Homo sapiens: one gene and its partner. The protein of the gene in region 1 purifies or fractionates together with the protein of each later gene. This does not show direct contact. Each region holds a gene or a part of one and is shown on either strand. Other genes may lie near its edges. The genes, in order: SPRR2A and WRAP73.

Region 1 (3,563 bases):
ATGGATACATAAAATGAGTAAGTTTTAATATTTGATAGCAGAGGAAGGTGACTACGGTATACAACAATGTACTGTGTTCTTCAAAATAGCTAGAATTAAAATGTTCCCAATAAAGAACAATGATAAATGCTGCAGGGGATGAATGCCCTAAATTTCCTGATATCCTGACTTGATCATTACACATTCTATTCATGTAAAAAATCACATGTATGCAGTAAATGTGTACAAGTATTATGAATCAATACAAATAACATTAGAGAGTCTTCTTATTTCCTATGTTAGTTACACCCAAGCCACTCTCTTGCTGGAACAAATATGGTAGTGGTTGTAGTGGGGAGTGATGATGATGAGGAGGAGGAGGAGGAGGATGGTGATGGTGAAAACAATGATAATATGTTGCTGCGAATACAACTCTATCAAATGACAGCTAATTACGTGTCAGGCATTGTGCCAACCAAATATCAGATAGTAATCAAATTTTATGCCTTAGACTAGTTTGTAATGTAAATGTTATTTTGCTCACTTTGCAGTAAAGAGAAGTTGTCAATTCAGAGAAGTTGAATAATATCCTCCTCAAATCAATCAAATGCTAATTAGGGAAAATAAAAGGGGTTTAAAATGATACAGAAATAATCTTTGGTATGACTCCAATTGTGAGATCCTGCTGTGAATCAAAGAAAGATTGAAATAAATCCAAAAGATTACATACTATTGCTAATAAAGCAGATTTGAAAATAAACAAAAGATCCATTCACAAATATATATGCATAGATACTTTATTCAGGGAGTGAAAGATAAGTGACAATTGCAAAGGTGGTAGAAGCTCGTGACCAGGTGACAGACAGACACAGAACACATCAACAGAATTCTCTGATGGTTCCCAGGGAGAGAGCTGCTGCTCTTTCTTCCGAAGCTCTGGGAGCTGGCACAGCCCAGGACTTCCTTTGCTCAGTCTCCACCTGGACAGTGGCAGTATGGCAGCCTCAGAAAAGAAACTTTTTGCTGTCAGGGATCATCATGGGCAGATTACTGGCTAAGGAGAAAGAAGCTCCCTGTGTATCCATGGTAGGCTTTGATGAGAAGATGAAGGTGGAGCTGTGGAACGAGGTGAGCCAAATATCCTTATCCTTTCTTGGTCCTGATGAATTCTGAAGCTGTTACTTGCTCTTCGGTGGATACTTTGACTGGCAGGGTGGGGAAGGTGTCACAGGAGGATATTTCTGCTGGCACTGCTGAGGTGGGCAGGGCTGTGGACACTTTGGTGGTGGGCAGGGCTCAGGGCACTTCGGGGGTGGACATGGCTCTGGGCACTTTGGCGTGGGGCACACAGGAGGTGGCTGGCAGGGCTGCTTGCACTGCTGCTGTTGATAAGACATCCTGCTGGAGTCTCAGGATCTGAAAGAAATGATACAACAGTGTTCGTGGGAAGGGAATCCTCCAGAGAGAGAAGCCAAAGCTTGTGTAATACCATGGCATATTATTTCTCCAATCTCCAAGAAATTATTTAAATTCTTAATTACCTTTTCAAGACTTTCTGGTTTCTCCCTTCCACTTTAACAAATTGCTTCATTGTCCCTAGGAAATCCTGTGTTTTCTCATACAATTTTTCCAAATAAATTATCTCTGTTATAAAGAATCAAGCATCTTATTTCCCTGAAAATAACCAATTCAAGAAAGGCAGTCACAAGTTCAGACACCCTGGGCAATCTAATATGCTATTCCTATCATCATTATCTGTTATAAAGTCCAAGTGGGCTGACTTGGGCATAGAGCAAAGGGCTGCTCAGGGAGAATTGTAGTCTTTCACACCTGCTAAGACACAAACCTTTGTAAAGGACACTAGAAAGACAGAGAATAAAGAAAAATACTTTGTTCTTTTTTCTTCTTCATATCAAAGGTTACCCCTTAACTTCTCTGTCCATATGGATACCTACCTGTATAACAAAAGAAAGCTAAAATAGCATATAATTGTGCTCTAATCTTAAATTTTCATCCACTAAGTAGCATCAAGTCAATTTTCATAGGATTGGATCCACCAAACTTGCCATATTCAGATTAAACTCAACATTTCAGGGCACAAAGAACAGAGGAACTCAAGGAAGCCGACTCACCAGGTTCTCCAAGGCAGATCAGTGCTCAGGTACCAGGGGTTTAAGAGTCGTGCAGCAGAGGATCTCTTTATAGAGCCTGCTACCCCACCCAGCAGGAAGTGAAACTACCCAAAACAATGCTGATCCAGTAATTTCTTAAGCCAGATGCAAATTTATCCATGACTGGCATGAGCAGGATACTCAAAATAGGAAATATCCTGTTCTGAAATCTCTCCTCTGGGTTAAGCTCTCCTGACTCACAGAAGCCATGCCTTGGATCTCAGTTTCAGTGACTTATGGCAAAGAGGGACTTGGGGGAATCTCTAACTGATGGTCAAGGGATCTCTTTCTTAATTGGGAACAAAGATATTTTCCTGTCTTACACCTTCCCTAAATCATAAAACTTCTGCCCTCATTCACTTTACCTGAATGCCTTATTGTTGTACATGAACTCAACTGTACCTCTACTTTCCTCATGCAATTTGCCAATGTGCTAGGAGGAAGGGGAGACCTAACAAAGGCCTGAGTTCTAGCTCAAGCCTTTTCTTTGCTCTGTTGTATGACCACAGGCAAGTCACTTCTCCTCCACGGAACTGTAAACAGGGAGAATAATACTTACCCCTGAGTTTGCAGGCATTGACCGCATTGTGCCACCTGATGACCCTGTTCGAGCTTGAAATTTTTTCTTCTACCTCTTTCTTTCTCTCATAAAACCCCAGATTTTACCTGTATTATCTTCCTCTTTAAAACTGTCTTCTCTAATCCATTTGTAGAGGCATTTGTCTCCCAGGATAGATTCCAAAGTGAGATCGAGTCTCCCTAGCACGTTTTCTACTTGCTGCCCTTAGGGATGTGTACTATAACTTTTTATTTATAAAAATGTACTCTTGGACACCACCTTAAGGAAGTAGAGAGAATGGAACCAAAGTTGCAAGCATTCACTCAAAATCTATGTATTGAAACTTGCCTATGTTCAATACATTTTACATACATTTTTAGTATAATTTGAATATTTTAAATATTACATAATCTCCCAAAACATTCTGTAGTGTCCTGTGAATATCCTATAGAGAACAAGCTGCATAGACTCATGTTATCATATGTAAATAATTAGAAGTAGGTTTGCAGAGTGCAGAAGTTCAGAGCACTTAAAGTCTGAAATCTAGAGGAAAATAAAAGCTAAGTGTAATCCAATATGTATTCTTGCTCTCTATTTCCAAACAGGTTTTAGGTGTTTGAAAGACAGTGTTTTAAAATTTGTTTGTATGTTCTTCCTTTGTTTTTTCCGTAGACCCTCTAGTCCCACAGTCTGCTGGATTATCAACTCACACCCCAATGTACACCTCTCATCTGTCCATTTTGGTACATATTGTTCACTTAACACATATGTTGTCAATGCATTTAGTGATTGTTCTTTCACATCTTTTTTAAGCTCTTTTACAATCATAAGGTTTTCTAAATATTGTATATTAA
Region 2 (3,817 bases), about 150 Mb from region 1:
GGGCCGCTGGGTCCCCTTCCGAAGGCGCGACCCCATGTCCGGGGCTCAGCGGGGCCGCTGGGTCCCCTTCCGAAGGCGCGACCCCATGTCCGGGGCTCAGCGGGGCCGCTGGGTCCCCTTCCGAAGGCGCGACCCCATGTCCGGGGCTCAGCGGGGCCGCTGGGTCCCCTTCCGAAGGCGCGACCCCATGTCCGGGGCTCAGCGGGGCCGCTGGGTCCCCTTCCGAAGGCGCGACCCCATGTCCGGGGCTCAGCGGGGCCGCTGGGTCCCCTTCCGAAGGCGCGACCCCATTTCGGGGGTTAGTGGGGCCGCTGAGTCCACTTGCGAAGGCGCCACCCCACGTGAGGGTGCTGTGGAGCATGGGAGACGTCCCTGCCTCTTGCATTTTAACGTGAAAAGGCAAGCTTGCGCCCATTAGACGAGGTTCAGTGAGTCATCAAAAGCGGCTCACCCCTAGGCCTGCAGCGGAACACTGCCGCGCTTTCAGAGCCCTTCTCTTCCTCGTAGCAATGCCCTCCCCACCTGAGGGCACCTTTGCCCCACGTCTTGCGTGAATCACATCCTCACTGTTCTTGAGTCTCACTGTACAGATGTGTCTAAACACCACATTGCTTGCTGTGCAGTGTAAAGTTGATTTATAGGGGCTTGTACTTTGCAGTCTCTGCTGTTGCTGTTCCCCGTCACTGCTTTTAGACTCCTCCGTGTTGACAGGCATCGCTGGGCCTTCCCTTCCTCGTGAGGAACGCCATTCAGTCCTCGCCTGCTGGACGTGTGCGTCACCACGGACGGTGTGGCTGTGAACGTGTTGTCCCCGTCTCCTGGGCACATACCCGGAGAGCCTCTCTAGGAGAGCCTTGCTTGGCCGTAGCAGACGGAGGGGTTTCATTTGCCAAGGCTTTTGTGGCAGGATTACAATGATTCCATCCAGGCGACTAAATGATACTGCAGTTTGGATTTAGTTTGCGTTTCCCTAATTCTCGGTGAGGTTGAGTGCTTTCCTATCTTGTTTCATTACACACAGACGCTCACACATGCTCCATTTAAATGAAGCAGGTTCACGTAGTGGGGCACACTGTGGGGTCTGAATCCATTTCTACCTTTTCCCAGCAGCATTTTTTTTTTTTTTTTTTTGAGATGGAGTTTCGCTCTTGTCCCCCAGGCTGTAGTGCAATGGTGTGATCCAAGCTCACCGCAACCTACGCCTCCCAGGTTCAAGCGATTTTCCTGCCTCAGCCTCCCGAGTAGCTGGGATTACAGGCATGCGCCACCACGCCTGGCTAATTTTGTATTTTTAGTAGAGATGGGGTTTCTCATGTTGGTCAGGCTGGTCTCAAACTCTCGACCTCAGTTGATCTGCCTGCCTCGGCCTCCCAAAGTGCTGGGATTACAGGTGTGAGCCACCGTGCCCAGCTCCCAGCAGCATTTATTTAGAAGGCTATCTTCACCAGCTATAGCAGGAGCTCAGTTCCATTATACCTGCAGGATCACTTCTGGTTTCCATTCCAGTCCACTGTTGGTCCACCTATGTGCCAGCACCACACTGTCTACATTATTGAGGTTCTATGGTGTGTTTGAATATCTGATGGGACTGATTCCTCTTCATTGCTCTTGTAGTCTGTCAGATTTTTTAAAAACAATTTTTTTGTAGAGTTGGGGTCTCCCTTTGTTTCCCAGGCTGGTCTCGAGCTCCTAAACTCACGCAATCCTTCCTTCCCAGCCTCCTGTATAGCTGGCATTACAGGTGCACAACAGTGCGCCCGGCTCTGCCAGATTTTTAAATGTATTTTTGAGACTTTGTTGTTAGCTGCATACAAACTTTTAACTGTTTGTAAACAGATTTCCTAGTGAAGCGGTTCCCATGATTCCGCGGTGGCACAGGCCTTTTGTTGTAAAGTATTCCTCTTTATGTCTCACGGTTCTTTTTGTTTCAGAGTCTGATTTATCCCGTACGAATGCGGCAGTGCCACCTTTCTCTTGGTTAGGATTTTCTTGATATGTCTTTTTCTATCCTTTTACCTTCTACATTTCTGCATCCTTAAACTTGAGTGTGTATGTTGTAAATAGTCTATAGTTAGCTTTAAAAATATATCCAGACTGCAGACTTTTTCTTATATCTGAATAAAGGCAATTAAAACAATTTATAAGCAAGAGAATTCACCCACTTTAAGAGCACAGTTGAGTGAGTCACTTTGCACGTCATTGCCGCCACAATCAGGACCAAGACTGTTCGCCCGTGGCATGGGGCTCCTCGTGCCCCTTGTGCTCAGTCCGTCTCCCACCTGTGTCCGGCAGCCGGTGCCTGCTGCGGGGCGAGCAGCACTGCCTACTCGGAATCCCATCTGCACAGAGCCATGGTGCGTGGAGCTGTGCGTCTGCTTCCTTTTCCCTGGCATCTTGCTGGTTTTGAGTGTGCTGGGTTGTGGGGTGGATCAGTGGCCCGTTCCTCCATCTTGAGAGTGCTGGGTCATGGTGTGGAGAGAGTGCTGGGTCGTGGCATGGATCAGTGGCCTGTTCCTCCCGTCTTGAGTGTACTGGGTCATGGCTTGGATCCGTGGCCCATTCCTCTCACCCTGAGCATGCTGAGTTGTGGTGTGGATCGGTGGCCCGTTCCTTCCGTCTTCAGCACACTGGGTCGTAGCGTGGATCAGCGGCCCCTTCCTTCCCTCCTGAGTGCTCTGGGTCATGTGGATCCCTCTGGTCCTTTCTTCCTGCTGCTGAGTGCTGTGGAGCCCATCCCACGGGTCTCCTCCGCTGGCTTCTCCAGTGGTCAGTGGAAGGTAACAGCGCTGATGAAGGTGTATATTTAACTACCTTTTTTTCTTATTGGGTTTTTAAAAGTTGCAAAGTTATCTTTTAAAGGTTTTTGTTTCTTTGTTTTTGTGAGATGAAGGTAAAAATCAGGCTTAAAGTGCTCCCTGTGTTTCCTAAGATGTGCCTGAGTGGGGAGCCTCGGCCAGGCGCACCCCACAGGGATGCAGGGCCACAGGTGGGAGATGTGCTTTTCTCCTGTGACTCTGCAGTAGGCTCTGGAGGGCAGGTCTCTGCCCTGGGTGGCACATGGACTCTCCTGATGCTGAGAGGCTCGGGCGCTGCACCCCGCCCTGCTGATGCTGAGATGCTTGGGTGCTCCACCCCGCCCTGCTGATGCTGAGATGCTCCGTTGCTGCACCCTGCCCTGCTGATGCTGAGATGCTCGGGCGCTCCACCCTGCCCTGCTGATGCTCAGAGCCTCGGGCGCTCCACCCCGCCCTGCTGACGCTCAGAGCCTGGGGCGTTCCACCCTGCCCTGCTGATGCTCAGAGCCTCGGGCGCTGCACCCCGCCCTGCTGATGCTCAGAGCCTCGGGCGCTGCACCCCGCCCTGCTGATGCTCAGAGCCTCGGGTGTTCCACCCTGCCCTGCTGATGCTCAGAGCCTCGGGCGCTCCACCCCGCCCTGCTGATGCTGAGATGCTCGGGCGCTCCACCCCGCCCTGCTGATGCTCAGAGCCTCAGGCGCTGCACCCACCCTGCTGAGTCTGAGAGGCTTGGGCAAGGTTTCAGCCTCAGACACGCTGGTGGGAAGTAGCACGCTTCCTCGCTCAGGCCCCAGCGCCCTCCTTGGCCTCAGCTTGTGGAGCTGTTAGAGGAGCAAGTGCTCTGTGCAGCTGGAGTTCCGAGGCATGGTCCCCAGAACGGCCAGTGTGTTTCGGGTTCAGCATCAGCACAGGAGCCCTTCCGTGCTGCCACGTGACCCCTGGAGCTCGTTGATCCACTACCTGTGTGTTCAGGACTTCTCTCCTGAACGCTGTATATGTTGTTTGGAGAAACAATTACAGA

The links.
Region 2: the proteins of SPRR2A (region 1) and WRAP73 purify together in Homo sapiens (co-immunoprecipitation; one large-scale study listed by IntAct). This does not show direct contact.

What each region holds. Positions count from the first base shown.
Region 1 is NC_000001.11:153,055,360-153,058,922, forward strand, and holds SPRR2A (small proline-rich protein 2A), read right to left. Parts: upstream 2,154-3,563; 5' UTR 2,112-2,153; intron 1,396-2,111; 5' UTR 1,377-1,395; coding exon 1,158-1,376; 3' UTR 761-1,157; downstream 1-760. UniProt on the Homo sapiens protein: Gut bactericidal protein that selectively kills Gram-positive bacteria by binding to negatively charged lipids on bacterial membranes, leading to bacterial membrane permeabilization and disruption.
Region 2 is NC_000001.11:3,640,052-3,643,868, reverse strand, and holds part of WRAP73 (WD repeat-containing protein WRAP73), read left to right. Parts: intron 1-3,817.